Linked DNA regions of Homo sapiens. The protein of the gene in region 3 interacts with the protein of the main gene of each other region in a biochemical or structural test. Each region holds a gene or a part of one and is shown on either strand. Other genes may lie near its edges.

The links. The genes of interacting proteins can lie anywhere in the genome.
Region 1: the proteins of RBPJ (region 3) and SPEN form a complex in vitro, tested with the Homo sapiens proteins (2 studies listed by BioGRID and IntAct).
Region 2: the proteins of RBPJ (region 3) and CCNF form a complex in vitro, tested with the Homo sapiens proteins (one study listed by BioGRID).

What each region holds. Positions count from the first base shown.
Region 1 is NC_000001.11:15,843,721-15,850,716, reverse strand, and holds the start of SPEN (msx2-interacting protein), read right to left. Parts: upstream 3,011-6,996; 5' UTR 2,650-3,010; coding exon 2,567-2,649; intron 1-2,566. UniProt on the Homo sapiens protein: May serve as a nuclear matrix platform that organizes and integrates transcriptional responses. In osteoblasts, supports transcription activation: synergizes with RUNX2 to enhance FGFR2-mediated activation of the osteocalcin FGF-responsive element (OCFRE).
Region 2 is NC_000016.10:2,424,954-2,432,456, reverse strand, and holds the start of CCNF (cyclin-F), read right to left. Parts: upstream 3,011-7,503; 5' UTR 2,976-3,010; coding exon 2,960-2,975; intron 1,328-2,959; coding exon 1,173-1,327; intron 1-1,172. UniProt on the Homo sapiens protein: Substrate recognition component of a SCF (SKP1-CUL1-F-box protein) E3 ubiquitin-protein ligase complex which mediates the ubiquitination and subsequent proteasomal degradation of target proteins.
Region 3 is NC_000004.12:26,316,429-26,324,030, forward strand, and holds the start of RBPJ (recombining binding protein suppressor of hairless), read left to right. Parts: upstream 1-4,585; 5' UTR 4,586-4,600; coding exon 4,601-4,620; intron 4,621-4,799; exon of another isoform or gene 4,800-5,443; intron 5,444-5,737; exon of another isoform or gene 5,738-6,460; coding exon of another isoform or gene 6,461-6,522; intron 6,523-7,602. UniProt on the Homo sapiens protein: Transcriptional regulator that plays a central role in Notch signaling, a signaling pathway involved in cell-cell communication that regulates a broad spectrum of cell-fate determinations.

The sequences.
Region 1 (6,996 bases), on a different chromosome or scaffold from region 3:
TAGTAGCAATCACACATTTTACAAAATATATCCCACAATAGGGATAAAAGGCCTTGAGTTCCTCCAAACAAGGTCCACTTAGCTCCACAGCTGGATCAGCAGGAACATTTCTTGTACATGCAGAAAGATAAACAAGAAACCAGAAATAGACATTACCTGGATTTTGGGGGGTGAGGGGAGGAAGTGTGGCAACTGGGAATTCCAGGGTCAGGGGTGGAGATTTTTCTCTGTATACCTTTCACATGCTTTGAACCCATAAAAATGTACTGTCTATTTAAACAACTAAATAGATTTGTTTAAAAATGAAAAAAAAAAACCTTTAAAATAAAAGAATTTCAGGGACACATGATCTGCTTAGTTTTAAAATAACCTGCTTTTATCAGTAGCATCTGCTTTTACTCTGCAATAGGTAAGATACTCCTTTGAATGCAGTCGTGAGCAAACTGCCAGCTAAGCCGTTTTTAATACAGTAATGTTCCTCCAGACTGCCGCTTTCCAAGGCAGCTCGAATCCTCCGCCCCCTCCTCCCTCTGTGCATTCTGAGATCGGCTCTGCTGATTCCCACATAAAGTGGGTCCTGGCCGCCATTTTAGAAAGTCATTCACACAAGCCAGACCGCAGCACCGTCCACTAAGAACCCTTCCAAAGCTGCCTGGGACGATTTCCTCTTTCTTCTCTCTGCCCCCTCATCTTGCAGAGGGGCCAAACTCCCAGCCATAAGCATGCAATGTCTCTGGAATCTGCATAATGAGAAATGACACGTCTAGGCACATAACACTGAGGAGCGAGCGAATGCTGCAATGCACGTGCTTGTACATCGGTGCATACGAATTTCCCAGGCAGAGACCTACAGAGAAAGTCCACAGGGGATTAAAGTGAGCACATCTAAGTGGTTTTTCCACTCCAATAATGTACACCTAAATGATTTTTCCATCAAAACACTGACGATACTCGAGGAGAAGCCAGGAGGTGGGGGGCGGGTAAGGGGTGGAGCAGCGCCAGGAAGAGAAAGTTCCCATCTGCTTCCCAATCCAGCCCGTGGTCTCCCCTTCATCCTAGGGCACAGAGGTGAATTTTTGCTCCCTGCCTCCCCCCGCCCCCGCCTGGTTTCTCAGGCACGACGTAGTAAACACCGGGAGAGTCCCTGGAAGCGCGCACCTCCCCCCGGCCTGCCGAGGACAGCTCAAGCAGGTTATGAATGGCCCCACGATTCCCGGCTCCTTTTCACACGCGGACACGCGCAGACGCGCGCTCCAGCGGCGAGGGTTTAATGCCCCAGTAACAGCAACCACCAACACAATCAATGATCCTCCATTTAAAAGACAGGAGCTCCGCCGCCGCTGCTTCCATTTCCTTATCCAAGCGGCTCAAAGCGAGCGACGCAATCTATTTTTCCCATGGTGACTCATTAATGAGGACGCTCCATAATTTCCTTCACTCACTACATAGTAAGGGAAATTAAAAGCCAAACTTAAAACCTTCCAGGGTCTTAAATATCGGAATAAACTGTCATTTTCGAGGACAACCACAGATTTGCTATGGTCCCTCTGAATCTGCACCAAGTCCAAGCCAATCGTCATTTTAATAAGTGTTTTATGCGGAGGCCTATCTGTTACGGTACACAGGCATTTCACAAAGAAAACGCACTACACGCTACTCAATAAGATGTATCAACGACAACATTTATTCTTATAATTCACAAAAATATTCAGGGGAGGTTTTTTTTTTAAGCTACATCTTCTCATCGTAAAAGGTTTGGAATGTTTTACCGTTTGATTCGGGAATTCAGGGGTGGGGGGCACCAGGGTCTTAGGGCGGCCTGGGAGTGCGACCCGAGGCTACGGGCGCCGGGGCTAGCAACCTCCTGTCAGACGCGGTCTCCTCCGCCGGGGACGAGGAAGCCCAAACGGGCGCACCAACTTATTTCACACCACTCTCCACCCAGCCCCGCAAAAACGAGAAACGTTTGCCATTCCCAGTGAGTTTCAAGGCTGCAAATCCTCCGGAGAGGTCCTAGATGGTCTCTCCGGGTCCGCGACGCGACCACAGTACCTACTGCGACTTCTGTTTTCGCACCGCCTTTCCCTTCGCACGGAACCCTCCCGAAGTCAGACATTGCCGAGCGCCCGCAGAGCAGCTTGGAGTGGCGGCGCCGGACCCGGCTGTCGGGCGGGCTCGGGTCCCGGCTGCTCCGGGCCGGGCACTGCGCGCAAGGACGCGACCCCGCCGCCCAGCGCATCTCCCACCGACTCCCGGGCTGACGCGAGGGCAGCCCCGGGGCGCCGGCTGCGTGGAGGCCGAGCCTCGGTCACCTCCCTCGTCACGGACGCGGCCGCCGGGGCCCCGCGGGCTCTTCGAAGGCGGCGCGGCTTGGCCGCCCGCACCGCCGACACCCGAGGCCCAACGCCGCGACGCGGGCCGAGCGGCTGACGAGGTCCCACAGCGCCCGTGGGTCCGGGCCGGAGTCCTCCTCACCAGCTCCGCGCTCCGGGAGGGGCCGGCAACGGGCCGGGGCGGGAAGCGGCGCCCGAGGAGCGAGCGCGGCCGCGGGCCTCGTGTCACTCACCGTTTGAAATGCTCGATGATCTTCTCTTCCCGCACGTTCTCGGGTAAGTTGCCCACCCAGAGATGCCTGGTTTCCCGGACCATGCTGGGCGGCGTGCCGGCGACCGCCGCTGCTGGCTCCCCCTCGCCGGCTTCGTACGAGACCGTCAGCGCCGGGAGGCGGGTGCCGGGGCGGCGGCGGCGGCGGCTGCGGCGGTGGCGTCGGCAGCGGCGGCGGCTCCTCCGGCTCCCCCCCGTGCAGAGACCATCCCTCTCCCCCAGGTTCTGACTCTCGGGCCTCGCAGCTCAGCTCTGCCGCCACCACACACCCGAAGCCGACCCTCGCGCTCCGGCAGCGCATGCGCCCGGGCAGGGGCGGGCGGGGGAGCGGGAGGAGGGGCGAGCGGGACACGGGCGGCAGCGACTACGACGGAGCTGGCGCTGTGGCAGCCGGACGCTTCCCACTGGCGCGCGCGGCCCGACTCCCGCCGCCGCACTGCCTCCCCCTCGCCGCGGGCGCGCGCGCGTCCTCCCGCCTGCCAAGGCGGAGAAGCTGAGTTCCTCCCAGCCGGCGCGCAGGCGCGCGGACCGGGCGACGAAGTGAGGGACTACAGGCGGGGAAGGAACGCTCGCGCGCTCGGCCCCGGTGCGCAGGCGCGCAGCTGCTAGTGGAGTCCCGCTGCTTGGCGGGCTCTCGGTCGGGTTCCCGCGCCGGGCAAGGGGCGGCTGAGGAAGCAGGAGCGGTCTTTAGCCCCTCCAGCGGCAACCCCAGGCCCCGGCCTGGTGGAAGATATGAAGAGAAATGCAATTGGTTTCCACAGGGCTACGGGTCAAAGCGGCTGCCAAGGCCTGTCCCCTAGAAGTCAGGACCCCTTCGTCCTCCGCTCACCTGGCGGCCAGCTCCTGGCGTTTCCGGACACTTAGATTCCTGCCTGCTTGGGAAAGCGATCAGAAAAAGGTTGCCCTTCTCACCGCTCTGCTGAACAGCGACGGCTTCAGAAACGCATCCCATCCAAGAGTCACTGGCTTGTAACATGAAGCAACTTTTTTTTTTTTAATACGGGGTCTCGCTCTGTTGCCCAGGCTGCTGGAGTGCAGTGGCACGGTCTCGGCTCACTGCAATCTCCGCCTCCCAGACTCAAGCGATTCTCCTGCCTCAGCCTCCCAAGTAGCTGGGATTACAAGCACCCGCAACCACACCTGGCTAATTTTTGTATTTTTATTAGAGACAGGGTTTCACCATGTAGGCCAGGCTGGTCTTGAACTCCTGACCTCAGGTGATCCGCCCGCCTCGGCCTCCTAAAGTACTGGGAGTACAGGCGGGAGTCACTGCACCTGGCCTAAGCAACTTTTTTATATAGAATCTTGCGAAACCGTTTGCAAGATACCCTTGCTGATCGCTGTGGTATAGAAGGAATAAAACGGAAATGAGACAGGAATCCAATATTGTTCCCCTCAGACCATAATTTAATATTTAAACAGAGAAAGGAATTAGACCTCTGGCCTTTCCAGGCCTAAGAGCTTTTGAAACCTACAGTTGAACTTTCTTTTTTTTTTTTTTTCCTTTGAGACGGAGTTTTGCTTTTGTTGCCCAGGCTGGAGTGCAATGGTGTGTTCTCGGCTTACTGCAACCTCTGTCTCCTGGGTTCAAGCGATTCTCCTGCTTCAGCCTCCTGAGTAGCTGGGATTACAGGCATGCGCCACCATGCCCGGCTAATTTTTGTATTTTTAGTAGAGACAGTTTCTCTGTGTTGGTCAAGCTGGCCTCGAACTCACAACCTCAGGTAATCCACCCGCCTCAAGCCTCCCAAAGTGCTGGGATTACAGGCTTGAGCCACCACGCCCAGCCTCTTTTTTTTTTTTTTTCCTGAGACCAAGTTTCACTCTTGTTAGCCAAGCTGGGGCACAATGGCGCTGTCTCAGCTCACTGCAACCTCCGCCTCCCAGGTTCAAGCGATTCTCCTGCGTCAGCCTTCCGAGTAGCTGGAATTACAGGCGCGCACCACCACACCAGGCTAGTTTTTTGTATTCTTAGTAAAGACGGGGTTTCACCATGTTGGCCAGGCTGGTCTTGAACTCCTGACCTCAGGTGATCTGCCCACCTTGGCCTCCCAAAGTGCTGGGATTACAGGCGTGAGCCACCATGCCCGGCCAGTTGAACTTTTATATAAAGGCCAATTTACAGAAATTCAAGGAAAACCCATAAAATTAAGGTAACTATATCGAGAGAAAAATAAAATTATTTATAATAAAAATACACAGAAATACCAGAGGTGTGCTGCTTCAGGTGCAAGCCAGATTTTTTTTTTTTTTTTTTTTTTTTTTTTGGAGACGCAGTCTCACTCTGTCACCAGGCTGGAGTGAAGTGGTACCATCTCTGCTTACTGCATCCTCCGTCTCCCGGGTTCAAGCAATTCTCCTGCCTCAGCCTCCCAAGTAGCTGGGACTACAGGCGCAAACCACCACGCCCAGGTAATTTTTTTACGTTTAGTAGAGGCGGGGTTTCACCATGCTATCCAGGATGGTTTCGATCTCTTGACCTGGTGATCTGCCCACCTCAGCCTTCCAAAGTGCTGGTATTACAGGCATGAACCACCAGCCCAGCCAATTTTAAATACTTGGCCTCATCGATTATCTCCTTAAATACAAACTAACTTACAAACGACACTATTTGAATTCGAAAATATTGTCACCAAAACCAATGGCACTAATATCTCAGGTCACCTATGCATAACTAAATTGTTTCTTTGTAGTCTCAGCTACTGGAGAGGCTAAGGCAGAAGCATCATCTGAGTCCAGGAGTTCCAAGCTGTAGTGCACTATGATTGTGCCTTGAAAAGCCCCAGCACTCCAGCCTCAGCAACATAGGAGAAACCCCTCTCTTAAAAAAAGAAAAAAAAAAGTAAAATTGGCTATTTACATCTGGCCATTTCTCTGTCACAATTATCACATAAGGAAAGTCAAGCTAACACCCTACTAACGAAACTCATGAACTATTCAGTACTGTGAACGTGGCTGCAGTTAGTCAACTGTTGAACTGATATGCATTTTTCTATGAAGCATGAATTTGAATACAAGCACCCAAGTTTGAAGCAAATTTTAAAATCTGATGTAAAATCTGATAGACTGAATTAGCTGAAACCTCTTGGGAAAGACCAGTGTCACCATGAAGAACAGTGTCACCTCAATTGTATTAAAAGGTGCAACTGACAAGAGGATTCAGAAAAGTGTCTCGCAATTAGAGAAATAAAAGGCATGTCTCGCCTTGAATGGAGGCTTCTGTTAAAATCATGATTTTAAAAAAAAAAAAAAAAGAGCCGGGTGCGGTGGCTCACGCCTATAATCCCAGCACTTTGGGAGGCTGAGATGGACGGATCACCTAAGGCCAGGGGATCAAGACCAGCCTGGCCAACGTGGTGAAACCTGGCCTCTACTAAAAATACAAAAATTAGCCTGGCGTGGTGGTGCTCACCTGTAATCCCAGCTACTCGAGAGGCTGAGGCAGGAGAATCACTTGAACCCGGGAGGCAGAGGTTACAGTGAGCCGAGATCGTGCCACTGCACTCCAGCCTGAGCGACAGAGTGAGACTCAGTCTCAAAAAAAAAAAAAAAAAAAAAAAACCATTTTCACCATTATAGCCAGGTCCTGTAGTCAAATCAGGATATAGTGATTGCATGTCAAGTATGAAGTTTCTTGCTTTTTTTTTTTTTTGGTTGACTGTTTCTATTGCAAAAGCTCTTAATAACAAAACTGATAAGTACATGCCCTTTGCTCAGCCCCAAATCAAGTTTTTGATTTTCTCAGTGCTTTTCATTTTTGCTGACAATGCATCAAAAAACACCAGAAAAGCTTTTCTCCATTTGTATTCCTGTTACAAAGCTTTACAGGGGCAGAACTTCTTTAAAGCATGTATCTTTGTTATGTTTTCAATAGAAAGGCAACCCACTCTGTTATTCTCTGATGTTTTTTTATTTAACAATAATTGATGCTCACTGAAAAAGATCAAAAAGTAGGTTGTGATTTATCTATGATAAACGGATGGTGAAGTGAATTTCCTCATTTGATTACTAAAGATAATTCAGAAAGCTGACATTAAAGCAGAGCCATTTGCAAAGTGGAATTAAAATAGATTTGTTTTTAATCAGGTTTTATTTTCACACTGTGAGGAGCTGCTGTATTTAGCATGCTAGACATGCTCAAAGAGTTCAGTCATGCGTAATGAAAGCTCAGATGGAAAAAGCGTCTGAGCCTCCAACTCAGGCTTTGAATGCTAACCCAGCCAGTAGAGTAGTAAAATAATATCTCCATTTAAACAGGACAGGATAGTTATCAGATTTTAACAAGAATTTGGTTACAAGTCAGGTCCCAAGCTATTAAAATTAAGCTGTTTCAGGAGAAAACATGCACTTAAAATATAAGCATTTTGGCCGGGCCTGGTGGCTCACGCCTGT
Region 2 (7,503 bases), on a different chromosome or scaffold from region 3:
GTGAACACTTTAAGCACCAAAGTTTCCACTGCCATTGGAAATTCAGCACCCCCTGGGGTCCATAAAGTGTGTCGCACCTGCAATGGAGGTGGCTTTGGGAGTCAGAAAATGGGTTCTTGCTGGCATTTCCCCATGAATCCACTATATACTCTAGGTTAAGTCACTCAAAGTAAGCCTATGGTTCCAATATCTAGAAAATAACTCCTAGAGTCCATTTCAGTGTTAAATGTTACATGGAATTTGTCCTCAAGAATGTATTCTTATTCTTTTAAACACTATCCTATTTTTTAAGGGATGCAAATTTCACTGCCATAAAAGGGTACTTTCAGCCGGGTGCAGTGGCTCATGCCTGTAATCCCAGCACTTTGGGAGGCCGAGGCGGGCGGATCACGAGGTCAAGAGATAGAGACCATCCTGGCTAACACAGTGAAACCCCAACTCTACTAAAAATACAATAAATTAGCCGGGCGTGGTGGCGGGTGCCTGTAGTCCCAGCTACTCGGAAGGCTGAGGTAGGAGAATGGCATGAACCTGGGAGGCGGAACTTGCAGTGAGCCGAGATTGCGCTACTGCACTCCAGCCTGGGTGGCAGAGCGAGACTCTGTCTCAAAAAAAAAAAAGGTACTTTCTTTGTTGACACTGCAATGAACAGAGGCAATTTTAGTGTGCTAGGAGACAGCAGTAGGAATTTCTGTAATCAGAATGTCTTAAAGAAAGCATCTGGTAATGATATCATCCTTGTTTCCTTTTTGCCCTCCTTTTTTTTTTTTTTTTTTTGAGACAGAGTCTCGCTCTGTCGCCCAGGCTGGAGTGCAATGATGTGATCTCGGCTCACTGCAAGCTCTGCCTCCCAGGTTCAAGCAATTTTCCCGCCTCAGCCTCCCTAGTAGCTGGGATTACAGGCGTGAGACACCACGCCCGGCTAATTTTTGTATTTTTAGTAGAGATGGGGGTTTTGCCAAGTTGGCCAGGCTGGTCTGGAACTCCTGACCTCAGGTGATCCACCCCCCTTCGGCCTCCCAAAGTGCTAGGATTAAGGCATGAGCCACCGTGCCTGGCCTCTGCCCCAACCTCTTTTTTAGCCAAAGTTTTGTTCTGACAGTTAAGAACACAAGGCCTGATGGTATAATCAACAATGCTAGGGCTCATAGTGTTTTCATGCAGGGACTTACAGCTCGGACGGCCAGGATGTCCTCTACAGAAAGCCATTTCAGGATGTGAAAGAGCACATCTTCGGGGAGACTCAAGATGGTCAGGTTTCGGGGCCTCCTCCTTATTCTTCGCTTTGTAGGATAACAGAAACACTTGGCACACCTACAGTGGACCACTGAAGGAAAAAAAGACAGAAGCCTTGATAAGATGAAAAATTATTCTATATACACACCCTTGAAGGGAAAAAAAAAGGATAAAAGTTACATCTGAAGATGATCTAATGGTTACTATTCCCTGTGCCACAAAAGATGGAACTATGCTTCTTGTCCCAAACAAAGATTATGTAAAGGAGTGGCATTGCACAAATTACAGAAGAGATCATTCATTTTCAAATATTCAACAAATATTTATGGCAAATAGCGCATGTCATGTAACTTGGCTATTGGGAAACTTTCTGATCCAGAGCCCACATGACAGGCAGGAAGGGGAAAAAGCTGCCGAAGCTGAGGACGGTTTTCCTTCTATTTCACTCTCAGGAAAACTCCTGGGGCCTTTGCTGGATAGCTTTGCTTTTTGCACACGTGACCAAGGTGCATAATGTTCAATAAAGATCTGTGGGCTTGAAGAGTCTGGTTTTCAAGTCCAAATTAGAAGGGTCGGCCCTGGAGAGAAGCCACAGACTTGGAGGCCGGGGCAGTGTGCGTCCAAGTCTCAGCTCTGCAGAGTCTCAGTGTGCCCTCTATTGTAGAATGCGGAGTTGACAGCTACGCAGTAAGGTTGTTGCTCAGGTCCCAACACAAACCTAGACCTGTAGGTTTGTGTACAGATGCAATCATTAAAGGTGAGACGGGCATTCCACCCACCAGGCAGGCAGCCCGGACATGCTTCTCAGATGTGCTCTCTCCTCTTCCCACAGCCGGATTTTCCAACTCCTACTCCAGCAACCCCTTCCTCACTCTAAGCAGATGACCTTAGCCCTTATTTCACAGGGAAACAGAAGCCCTCAGACAGGAACCTCAGGATCCTGCCTCCCCATCTACAAATCTACCTTTCTATCCATCCTTCCTTCCAGTCCTGAAAGGAAGCGCCACTCCCCTCTGTGGGCCCAAATCCCTCCCCGCCTTGCTAGGACTTCCTAGCGATTGCTCCCGGCTCCCCTCTCTTGACCGGGGTCTTCCTGTTAGCAATTAAATCAGCTGCAAAAGCCAAACGTATTCCAGGGCGACGAATTCTCAAAGATTCTATAGACCTCTCCATAAAATATTCCTCATTCTCCGGCTCCAGGACAGATACTATGATAATAGCTGAAACCACAGTTCGTGTTTCCTGTGCCTCAACGCGCGCGGGGCCGAACGCTGCTTTCCACAGAGCTAGGTCCACGGCCCCGCTGGACTGAGGCTCGGTCAGGGCCCGGCCGGGCTGCGGGATCGCTTCGCCCCCACGCGCTCCGCAGCCCTTTCCCCGACCAGGAGGCGCTGGTGTTTGGCTCCCCGAGACCCGATCGCCGCCCCGGGACCCGATCGCCGGATCGCTGCCCCGGGACCCGATCGTTGCCCCAGGAAAGGGCCGGAAAACGTCGCCGCGGGGGAAGGCTCCGAGGGGCTCGGGCGCCCGCCGGGCATTTAAACCGCGCGCCCGGCCGCCGGGGCTCCCTGCGCGGGACGCGACATCCGCCCCGGGTTAAAGAGCTCGAGCCAGCCCTCTTCAGGCCGCCAGGGCCTCCCCTCCCGCGGGACCCACCGTCCGCCCCGCAGGGCAGGCAGAAGGGGTGTGGGGCAGAAACCAGCGGACATCGCCCCGCACTCACCGCCGCCGCTCCCCATCGCCGCGCTCGCGTCGCTGCCGCCGGAGCCCGCCTGAGAGCGCGCCCGCGCCCCGGCCGGAGCGCGCGTAGCCCTCGCGCAGGCGCAGACCCCGCCCCGCCGCCCACCCCAGTTTTCAAACGCACCCGGCCCTCCCATTGGCCTGCCCGGGGGGGCCGCCGCCGGCCCCGCCCATGTCCCGCCCTGTGCTCGCCTCATTTACCGCCCTCCACGCCCTCCCCGCCTGCTCCGGGACCCGCCATTGGCCGCGCCAGGACGCGAATTCGAACATTGGCCGCTGATTGGTGGAACCCGCGTGGCCGCCCCGCCTCCCCAACGGGGCTGGGGTCCCGTAGGAGCGCTTCCCGGCCGGCGGGCAGGGGTTTGTGGGCGTCCCCTCCCGGCCGCATGGGTTCGGGCTTCGCCGCTGACCCCGGCGACCGGCATCTGCGGTGCCAGATGGGCTGCGAAGGCGCACGCCTGCGGCCAGGGGAAAGAGGACTCCTTGGCGTCCCTCGCAGTCGCGGCCGTGATCCAGCCTGGGACAGCCTCGACGTGGCGCTTCTAAGACGAGGCCGTGCCCTGCCCGGGTCCCGGGGTCGCTCCTGGGCCCGCGACCCTCACCCCCAGCTTGCACGGCCTTCCCTTCCGCCGCCTGCTTCAGGTGGAGACCCTTGGGTTTGTGGCTGAGCCGCTGCTGGGCGGGGATGCTGGCCGGGATCGTGGTAGAGAAAGAGGAGGTCGGAGCTGACGCTGGGAAGTCTCCCCCGCGGAACGCTGACCCCTTCTTCCCGCGAAACGTGGCGCACCCTGGACGCCTCAGTGCTCCAGCCCCGGGGCAAGCCCTCCCCATCACTTTGGCCAGATGCTGCCCCCTGTCTGGCCTCCTCGGCTGCTACCTGGAGCTGCTCGCCGCGGGAAGTGTCGTATCTGCTCACTCTTGTCTTGGGCAGTGCCCATCTGAGCTGTCCTTCAGGAGTCAGCCACACCGCACCCCTTTTACGGCACAGGCTGTCAAGGGGAAGACTCGCAGCCTCCTGACTGTCTGGTGGAGGACAGAGGGGGCTTTTCCTGGGGAAGGCAGGGGCCTGGGCCAAGGCTGCCCACCCCTCCCTCACGCTTCCCTCAGTCTGCACCCTTCCATCCTTCCGGGTCCCCATAGAACTCCTTCAAGTACTGGGCCTGCCCTGGGCACACAGACAGGAGCCCTGGCGTGCAGGCTTCAGCCGGCCTGGGGCAAGAGACAGAGTAAACAGGTGATCACAGCACAGGGTACAGAAGAGTCCGTGGCCCCAGAGAGGGTCTGGAAGTTGGGAATATTCCCTGTCCCGGAATCAGGAAGCGGGTGAAGGAGGGTGAAGAGAGGACAGGCTGAGCGAGTTTGGGGCCTGCTCCCCAGATGTCCCATGTTCTCAGCCCCCAGATTTATTATCCCCTTATCTCACTTTTGTCCTCCTGGGTTACTGTTTCCTACTTTGTCACTGTTACCTGTCTCCCCCTAGGGCAGAGGTGCACTTTCAGGGTTAGCTTCCATAGCATCTTGAAGGGATTAATCAACTAGAGCCAGCCATGAGCACATTAGCCACACCAGCTGCCTCTAGAATCTAGAACAGCATCCTTGGTCCCTAGGTTGTTGTTTAGCTCTATCCTGTGCTTTGTGTCCTGATCACTCTCCTTTCAACATGGACAGGCAAATTTCTTTTTCAGGGAGCAGGAGTTGTCTTGACTGCAGCCATGCCTGCTCTCGCCCCACACCCTGCACTGGCAGTGGGAGCCTCCAGGGCTGCCCTGGGGTGATAAGTGGCTCCTCCAGGGTGTGGGCCCGTTTCCCACTGGGCTTCAGGAAGGTGAGACCTTGTTGGAAAAGTCTAAACTGTTAGGAGCTCAGGGAAATTCCTGGTGGAATGAGGTGTCGGTTGAAAACGTTATGGGTAGTGAGGGGCAGGGGAGAGAAGGGAAAGTGAAGTAGCTTGGGAGCCTGAGAAATCCCACATTCAGAGAAGAAGATGGGCCTTCAGTGGAGGCAGAGAGGGGCATGGGAGGAATGAGAGCTGGATATGGGAGCCCAGGGAGTGGCTTTCATCACAGGGAGCAGTCACCTGAAACGAGGACTGAGGAGGGTGGGTTGGCGACCATGGGTGTGCAACGCCGTTGTTCTGGGCAAGGGGTGCAGGAACCATAGGCAAGGCCTGTGCATGACCCTTTCCTGAGTCCTGGCTGAGAAGGGGCAGAGACCAGCATCTGCACTTCCCAGAGAGGAGCTGAGGGGCCTGTGGCAAGGGGCAGAGTGAACTCCACAGAGAGAGAAAGGCCACGGGATGGAGCCCGTCTCAGAAGAGAGGTGAGTGTACATGACAAAGGCATGTGGCCACATCCATCTGCATCTGGACAGTGTGATGGTCTGGCGCCCATGGGGCCTCTGCTCAGTGGTTCTCATGCTGGAGCTGCGCCAGAGTACCTGCTGTAGGGCTTCTTGCAACATGGATTGCTGGCCCTGCCCCAGGCATTTCTGATTCAGTAAGTTTTGGGTGGGGCCCAAGAACCTACATTTCTAACAAGTTTCCTGATGGTGCTGCTACTGCTGGGACCCCACTGCGAGAACCTCTGCCCCAGTGCAACCCTGGCTCCCCTGTCTGTTGATGTGGGAAGTTACTGGCTGCCTCTAAGCCAGTCTACCCATGTGGGAGGTGGGGCGCTGTCCACTTCATGGGTGGATATAGGATCACATGCAGCCCTAAATTTGCAGGAGCCAGGGAAGAGGATGAAAGCCCACACATCCAAATATTTAAATATTGTGACATCCCGACTTAGGCTAGCAAACTTGTCAATATTTATTTCCTCCTTCCTTCAGAAGAACAGTGACATTACCACCTGTGAGGCCAGGTGTGAGTTTAGAATCATGGTCTCCATGAAGCTTCACTCTTGCATGTGACCATGGGAGCCAGCCCCCAGCGGCCTACGGGCACCCTCCTCTCTGTTTCTGGCTCTATCCTGCTTTCCAAGGGATCTGCACACATGTGTGGAAACCTCCACGCACCCATCCAAACTCTACCCGAAGTTCTGCAGAGCCACTGCTTTGCTGCATCTCGCATCTCAGGGTGCGTTGGGCGGCATGGCCTGCCCTGGGAGGGAGTGCACTGGATGGACAAACCATCTGGGCAGGGGATTCTAGAGAAGGAAGAGCGCAAGCTTTGGGTGAGCATTTCCCTCTGCCCTGCAGACTTCTTGCCCATGAGCAAGGGGATGACCAGGACAGACCCCTTAAGGCCGGGCCTGAGGGTGATGTGATCAAATGACGCAATGCCTGCAGGGGACCAACCACAGAGTTGGCACCTGGTCGGGTCATGGTTAGTACTGTAGTCACCCCATGGCCACCGCCCTTGGAAAGGACATGCAAGATGTTCTGAGGCTGCTTCCACAGCCAGGTCTCAATAAGACCACAGGCTACTCAGGTGGGACTTGGGCATCCCTTTCTAAGGAAACGCACCTGGGTTCTCCAGCGGGCCTCTTAAGTTCTCCAGTGGGCCCCACTCTGCTCCGTGCACTGCAGTTAGGGGGACAGCCCTGTGCTGAGCTAGCTAGGTCGAGAGCTGCCTCTGTACGCCCTGGAAACCCAGGGAAGGCCATGCACACCTGGGCCAACCTGGCACTGGTCTGTCCTTATTACAGCAGGACAGGCTCTGAGGGAGGAGGCAGGGAGGGAGGCCGAGAGAAAAGCTGAGAGGGAGGCAGGGAGGGAGACTGAGAGGAAAGCCGAGAGGGAGGCAGGGAAGGAGGCAGCGAGCACGATGAGGAGCCCACCTGCTCTGCTTGCTCTCGTTGGTCTTCGCTTTGGACCAGGGGCACAGGGCATGCGAAGCTCAGGAAGACGTCCTCCATGGTGACCTGACTGCTGAGTAGTTGTCCAGCATGTACTTCTTGGCTTGCTCCAGAGTGCCAAACACCTGAGGGGAGGGAAGAGGCTGCTGTGGCCAGGCTGTCCCACAGATGCACACGGGGGAGGAGAGAGGGTGGGAAGGGCTGGCCTCCGGGACTGTGACAAGGCCCCAAAGAGGCCCATCCCTCTCTCAGCTGCTCCAGAACACCTCCTGAGAAGTCAGTGCTATGGATCTCAGCTGTCTGTGCTCTTGGGTGGGAGTGGTGTCAGAAGGCCAGAGGCCTGGTGGGGTCCCTGGCTTGCTGTGTGTCCCCAGGCATCTGGTGTTCCCTCTCTGGGCCTGCTCTCCTCTCCATGAAATAAGTGGGCAGGAGGAGCCAATCTTCAAAGTCCCTTCCAGCAGAAACACCTTCTGTTCTATGAAATCCACGTGAACGTTGCCATGGAGATGGCAGAGGACAGGGGCAGCACTGAACATGACTTCAGGAGGATGGGGAGGAGAGAAAGACAGGGAGAGAGAGAGAGAGAGACAGAGTTACCCCAGAAAGTGGGTCACGTCAAAAATGTGCGCTCAACTTCGCCCAGCTGAGGTCGCGGCCCAGCAGATGGTAATGGACCATGCCTTGGTGCTTGTCTTCAAGAACGCTGCCTGCACGAAGGAGAGATGGCGTT
Region 3 (7,602 bases):
ATATATACATTCATATACATTCATATATACATTCATATATACATTCATATATACATATTCATATATATATTCATATATATTCATATATATTCATATATATATTCATATATATATTCATGTATATATTCATATATATACACATTCATATATATACATTCATATATATAATATATATATACACATATTGATATATATATACACATATTGATATATATATACACATATTGATATATATATATATACACATATATATATATACACATATTGTGTATATATATATATACACACACACACATATCCGGCTAGTGGTGTTTTTGTTGTTTTTTTCCTGAAGTTCTAAAATGGAGAGTAAAGGAAACTCTTAAGTGCAGCCTCATCTACTGGTCTAACCCAGACGACTTTTTTTTTTTTTTTTTTTTTTTTTTTGCAAAAAACCAACACAGGTGGTTGCTCCATATGCCTTTTTCTCCTCCCTAGGCAGGCTAGTACTCACTGCTAGTCTAGTCCTAATATTGTTTTGAACCCTAGGAGGCTTAGTCTTCAGAATCATTTTTACTCTGCCCTAAAGTGGAAGACACCCCATTCATTCTACAAATATAATACAGCAGGCATTGTTCCAGCAGCTAAGGCTTGAATAATGAACAAACTAGACAAAAGTCCTTGCCCTTATTAATATTACATTATAATGGAAGGAGGCAGATAGTAAACACAACACACAAGTATGATAAATGTTATGTTAGTTAATGATAGGTGCCATGGACAAAATCAAGCAGAAAGGGGGATAAGGAGTATGGGAGTCCCTCTTGGGAAGGGTGTCAGGGAAGGCCTCCCTGAGGAGGTGACATCAGGCAAAGACAAGAAAGGAGTGAGGGAATGAGCTATAAGGTATATGAGGGAAGAGCATTCCAGGTAGTGGAAAAAGCAAAGGCTTGGAGCTGAAAGTGTGCTTGGGGCATCCCAGGAACAGTAAGGAAGGCAACTGGTGAGAGCCCACAGAGTGAGAGGTAGAGGAGGAGGTGAAGGCAGATAGATCAGGGGGGGTTTGGCAGTAGGCAAGATTGTCTAAGTCCTCATAGTGAAATGGGAAAGTCATGGAGGAGTTCTAGAGGGCCACTGAGAATGCTCTATTAGCACAGACTGCGGGAAGACAAGAACGGAAGAAGGGAGGACCAGTTAGGGAACTTCCTTAAACCAGGTGGGAAATAAGATGGGTTAGACTAGGCTAGTAGCTAAAGAGGTGTGACAGTATTTGGAATGTGAGTATATTCTGAAGGTGGAGCCAATAGGATTTTCCGTCCAATTGTATCTTGGGTGTGAGAAAGGAGGCAAGGACTCCAAGGTTCTTGACATAAGTGGAAGAATGGAGTTGTCCTTTCCTGAGATGGGGGAGGGCTGCAGATGGAGCATGTTTTAGGGCAAAAAGGGGGAGCTGTTATTCCCTTTGTGGTTACCATGGCTTCCCAAGGTCGCTGGGGCTCTCAGAAGGCCATGATTCCAAATTAGATCAGTGGTCTGGACTAGGCCATGACTGAAATACCTTCTTGGGATGACAGCTCCAAGGAATATGTGCCCCAAGGGCTTTGTCCTCCTCCTGAGCTATCCTGTTCCAAGCCAGACTTGCACTGAGATATTGCACCAAATGGTTTTAAGTCTGTTTTTTTGTGTATATAATCAATAGGCAAACACAAACACACACACACGCACACACACACACACACACACCCCTAAAACCTTGAAAACAACTTAAAAACCAGGGTTTCCTATTAGAGAACTCACTGTCCTCCAAATATCAAAATTCAATTCAACTCTACATTTGCGGGGCTGTGACGTGAGCAGGAAGACACTGGTTCCTAGATAATGCCAGGCTAAGGCTGGTATAGAAACCACATCAGGGCCAATCTGAAACGTGGCTGATTGAAGAATTTACGTAATCAGGAACTCATTGGATGAATGATCCAAAAGGAAGGGCTGCATTTAAAACAGTAGTCACTATAGCACCTGCCGCAGCCATACGTAAAATGGAATATTGCAATAAAAATACGGAAAGGTGACGGAAAGCAAAAAAGCCATATTAGTGGGAGGAAAAAACAGAAACTGATTTGTAAGATTACTTCAAAAGGCTAAGAAGAGACTGACAAGAAATTTTAAAAATCGTGTCCTTAAACGGGAGCAAGAATCTATACAAGGCAACAAGGCGAGAGCGCAGAGCTGTTTATTTATTTATTTATTTATTTTTCTACCCAGCTCACAGGGCCAGCGGGTAGATTAGAAAGAAAACAACCAATTGCTGCCAGGCGCGGTGGCTCACACGTGTAATCCCAGCACTTTGGGAGGCCGAGGCGGGCGGATCACGAGGTCAGGAGATCGAGACCATCCTGACTAACATGGTAAAACTCCGTCTACTAAAAAATAGAAAAAATTAGCCGGGCGTGGTGGCGGGCGCCTGTAGTTCCAGCTACTCAGGAGGCTGCGGCAGGAGAATGGCGTGAATCCAGGAGGCGGAGCTTGCAGTGAGCCGAGATCGCGCCACTGCACTCTAGCCTAGGCGACAGAGCAAGACTCCGTCTCAAAAAAAAAAAAAAAAAAAAAAAAAGAAACCAATTGCTAAAGTAGAGTAGCTAAGGAATCAGAACTTGTTTCAAAGTAAGCGAAGTAGTGGCCAGACTAGGTGACTCAAGGCATGACTCAAACCCGACTCTGGAGGCTGTCTGTCAGCTCCCGGAGGCGGGGGGCGCGGTGTCTAACACGTTTTAGGAAAGTACCAGGCTTGTGGAGGGCGACAGGAAACCTCCCCGGGAGATCGGCCTGGGGCTCCTCCTGCCCTAGAGCCTGACCTCTCACTCTCCGTACCGGCAGCGACTTCCAACCTCCTGGCTTCCCCTTCCTCCGTTCGAGGCTCCCCACCCCTCGTCTTCCATCCAGCGTCACAGGGCGTGTGCGTGTTGTGTGCGAGACGCGGGTCTCCTCCCCCGCCGCCCTCCGCCCCGTGCTCCCAGCCACGCGCCTTCCCGCCCCGCCTCCGCGGCAAGCCGCTCCCTTCCCACCCCGCCCGCGCCCGCCGCCCGCCGCCCGCCTCCCGGGCACGCGCTGCACGAACGGCGCCCGGAGCTGGTCTAGGCAAACACCTGTCCTGCCTTGGCTCCGCGAGATTTGGGGCGAAAGCTTAGGCAACAGGGGCACGTTCTCGCGAGGTTTAGGAAATTTCCCACGGCCGTGTTGTGTCTGAGCCGAGTAGTGGAAGGCGGTGGGAAGGAGGTGTAGCGTGAGACTGGACTGCCCGCATTGGGTACATGCGCAGTGCCGCTCGCGCGGGCCGCGCCAATCCTGCAGCGCCTTCAACAGGTTTCGGGCGGCGAATTCCAGTTCTCCGGGTTTTGGGGCTCCCTGCGGGAGGCAGTGCTGGATCTGGGAATCTCTAGGAAAGGAAAGAGCAAAGGAGGGGAAAGATGGGGGGCTGCAGGTAGGAGGAGGGGGCGGGATTCGGGCCCTTCACCCTGCTGTTCCATGCCCGGTGGGGCCAGGTTTGCCCGGGGGCTTCCGGGATCAGGCCGCCTGAAGCGCGATTCGGGCAGCCGGCAGCGTCCTCGGCTGTGCCAGGCCCTCGGGTGGCCCGGTTCCCTGTGCAGTAGTGGTCTCAACACACACCTGGGCTCACACACGGTGGTGGCTGCGATGGGGTCTTAGAGAGGCCATGCAGCACGCGAGCGGCAAGAGCTTTGATCGGGTCCTCTGGGCAGACTCGGAGGTGGGAGAATGTGGCTCTCAATTCCAAGGCAGTTTTCCCTTCTGGAGAGAACTACTCCGCGCTCTGGCGTGTGTCTGCGAGGTGGCCATTAGGGGTGTCTTTGCTAGAGGCCTTGGCTTGACCTCATTTCACACCCAAGGAGAACGCTAAGGCGAGAGAGCTCAACTGCAAAAGTTTTCCGCTTGAGGAGCTCTGGAAGGGCCTCCTCATTAGCATGGGGGGGTGTAATGAATGAAGACAGTCCCCGACGTGTCACTTGCCCGAACCCCAGACATCTCTGGCGCTCCTGCACCAAACGCCGAGATTAGCATAAAGGAGGCGCCCAGGGAACGTTTGAATGAATGAAAATAGCTGGGAACCCAGAGTGAGCGGGAAGCCGCTTGGAAAACACCCATTGAGGAGGTGTTTCATCTAGGCCTGTGAAACGCAGCCCATTTTCCCAGGACCCCTCCTCCCTTCTCCTCGGCCCCGCCTCCTGACCCCTCCATTCCTCGTCCCCGTAGTAATCCCCTCCGGTTTTCCTCAGTCTCCACGTACGTCCCTCAAAGCGCGTCCTAAAACCCGGATAACCGGAGCGCTCCCCATGGACCACACGGAGGGCTCGCCCGCGGAGGAGCCGCCTGCGCATGCTCCATCGCCTGGGTAGGTTTCCAGGGAAGGCAGCGAGCAGGATCCCCTACTCTGCGGGCGGCGCGAGGCGTCTGGCTCTTCGCGGCGGCGGCGAGGGGAAAGGGAGCGCGGGGGCTGGGTGGAATCGAGGAGTGAGGAAAAAGGGAAGGGGCGGGGGAGAGGGACCAGGGAAGGCGTCGGGGGGAATCTCGCGAGGGTTGGAGTTTTGGCGAGAGTTTGTGGAAGATGGCGCCTGTTGTGACAGGGTAAGTCTGAGGGAATCGGAGCGCCGGGAACCGGGAAAGTTGCGGGCGTCTGGCAGCTCACGGCGGGCAGCGGGTTCGGGGGCCGCGGCGCGCTTGGCGTTCGGGGGCCCGCGGGGGCGGCGTCGCGTGCGCCGAGCGCGGCGGCGGCGGCGTGTGGCCGTGCGCTGCCGCTCTGCGCTGCCGTGGCTCAGGCTCCAGCGCGTGAGGGCGGGCGGCGGCGGCGGCGGCGAGGCCGGCGGGTGCGGGCGTGAGTGCGGCAGGGCGCGCGGGGCCCTCGGGCGCCGTGCCTCCCGCGCGCCTCCAGCGGGCTCTGCCTGGGGGCCCCGTGCATCTTTGTTCCTCGCGGCCGTTGTCGCCGCTTCGCCCCGCTAGTGCCCCCGGCCCCGGGCGCTTTGTCTTTCACCGCTACCCGCTGCGACTCTCTACCCCCGGCCCTTTGTTTCGCCGCCTTGGGCGCTTTGTCCGACCCGTGGCGTCCCGCATCCCCTCTCCATCTCCTCCCCTCCGCTGTCCTTCCTCCCGTGCCCCTTTGTTGTGCCACACTCTTGTCGTTAGCCCAGTGACCTGCCACAGCCCGGGCACCAGATTTCTGCCTTAATTGTTCTTCCATTGTCTTTCTCCTGTGGGTCCCCTCTCACCTTTCTGTATGGTCCTGGATCACCCCCCGAGGCTTTGTCTCCCCCATCCACGGGCTTATTCTCTCGGCACCCCCTTCCTCTCCCGTCATCGGTTGATTTATCCACAACCCACGGTGTACGTCTGCTGAACTGTCTCAGCCCCGGGGACTCCATCTGCTGCTTCTAAGTGCACACAAGACTCTACGGTTTGTTGTTTTGTGGGTCTGAAAGATGCATGGGATACTTAGTTTTCTCCTCCGCACCTCTTTTTCTCGGGATTTCTTGTACCCTCCCGCCCCCCTATCGCCACCCCTTTCTCTCGGGATTAAAGCGTCTCCAATTTTCATCGCCGTCTTTTTAGTGCCGTGGGTTGTTTTGCTTGGAAACAGTAGCCTTGGAAAAAGATCTGGTCTCTTGGTGGTTCTTGCGCCCCCCGGCCCCCGCCCCCCTCCTGGTTCCTGACGGCGTAGGCCAAGGGCAGCTGTCTGTCGAAGCTTTGCAATCTAGGCTGCCTGAGGATGATTGGAGGGTATCGTAGGACGGTTAGAAGGAGGCTCAAGATGTATATATGTGTTTTTCTGTTAGTGTTTGAGAATAGTTTCAGATAGCCACAATGGATATTCATTTGGCGTGTGAGTAGGAGTTGAGTGAATTTCCATGTTAAAAACTTGTGAGTGTTGGGGCGGAGAATTTCAGCATTTTCTAGAAATCTGGATTTAGAATTTATCAGTAACTTCTGCCTCATAAGGAAAAGGAGAGGCATTCCGCTTGGGAATTTTATATAAATGTTTTATTTTTTCTTAATCATTAGATAGTTTACAGTTATGTGCTTTTTGCTGCCCTGTAGATGCGTGACAACCCTTCTGTCCCATCATTGGGGTTGAAATGAGGACAGCACCGAAGAGTGCAGTTTCTGGTCGATGAATACTGCTTCTAAGATCTTTGTGGAAGATATTAATCAAATGCAGTTAAAAAGTATACGTATAATATGTATATTATATATATATATACACACACACACGTAATAGCCTGTAGTGAGATTATTTTAAAGACACTTCCTAGTGTTAAAGAACCCTTGAAGTGTTTCGAGTTCTTATTGTTTTGGTAATGCTAAAAGCTTGGGGTTGTGTGAATGGGGGTGGGGGGTGTGGTGTGATGTATTCTAATGACTTGAGTTATTCTGGGTGCTAGGAATAAGAGTTATTATATTTACCAGGATTACTATGCTGAAGGTATTCTTCAAGAGTTTGTTTTTTTTCTACTGGTTGATCTCTACTTTTAGAAGGTATGTTACCCATAAAATCATTTGGAGTGTCATTTCATTTACAAACTGAAGTTCTACAATAGTGAAGTGTTGTTGATAGGGGACATACGAGATCTACTCTAACGAGTATTGGAGCATTGGAAAATACTTTTTTTTCTGGCTGTGATTAGAATTAGTAGTTTGAGTTTTAATTAATGGAAAACCATGTTTTCATGATTGATACATAAGTTTTTTTGTGAAAATCTGCAGTCTGGGTCGCTTGAGTGGGTTTTACCAATAATCTTATGTCTCCCTTACTTGTTCTTGTACATAATCATTGTTTTGAAGGTAAAATCTTGAGCTCACTGGTTCTCTGACTGGGAGCAAAGTGTAAATACTGTGTAGTAATGGAAGGTATTTTGCTCTGACTTGTACCTGTAAGAATGATTACACAGACATGATAAAAGCGCTTTTACCATTTGAGTTGCGTTTTTCTTTCTAAATCGTGTAATACTTTTACTTACATGATTGGTGAAATAAAACTGCTTTTAATTAAATTATAACAGCAGCATATTTCGAAATCTGGATGCGTTGTGGCTGGAGAACTTTCATTCTGAGTATTAACTGTTAAAGCTTTAAATTTTATTATCCATGCATATTGCTGATGGATCTGTGAGTATATTTTCAGAAAACAGGAGACTTGCAATATTTTCAAATCTGTACTAATACACACTTGTAGGCATTAGATTTTAAGCAGTTAGGTTTGTTAAAAAGTTATCTGTTGTCCTATACCAACAGATTTCTATCAATGTTTTTTTTAAGTGGGTAAGATCAAAATTGGTTTGGTTGACAGGCCATTCTTGCCAGATGTAATTCATTAAATAACCTTTGGCACCCTTGATGGGTAAGGCATTAGGAAAAAATTGTTTCGTTTGAAAGTTATTATACATCTCATTCTTCTGTTCATTTTTAGAAATAAGACCCAGGACTTGGCTTTAAAGCATTATTTTGCATTTTGCTTCCTCCTAATACTAAATTTCATGTTATCTCAACTAGGGGCAGTATTTTCTCATGGATTGACTAAAAGTTGTTATTTTTGGCATCTGGCTTTGTGATTATTTC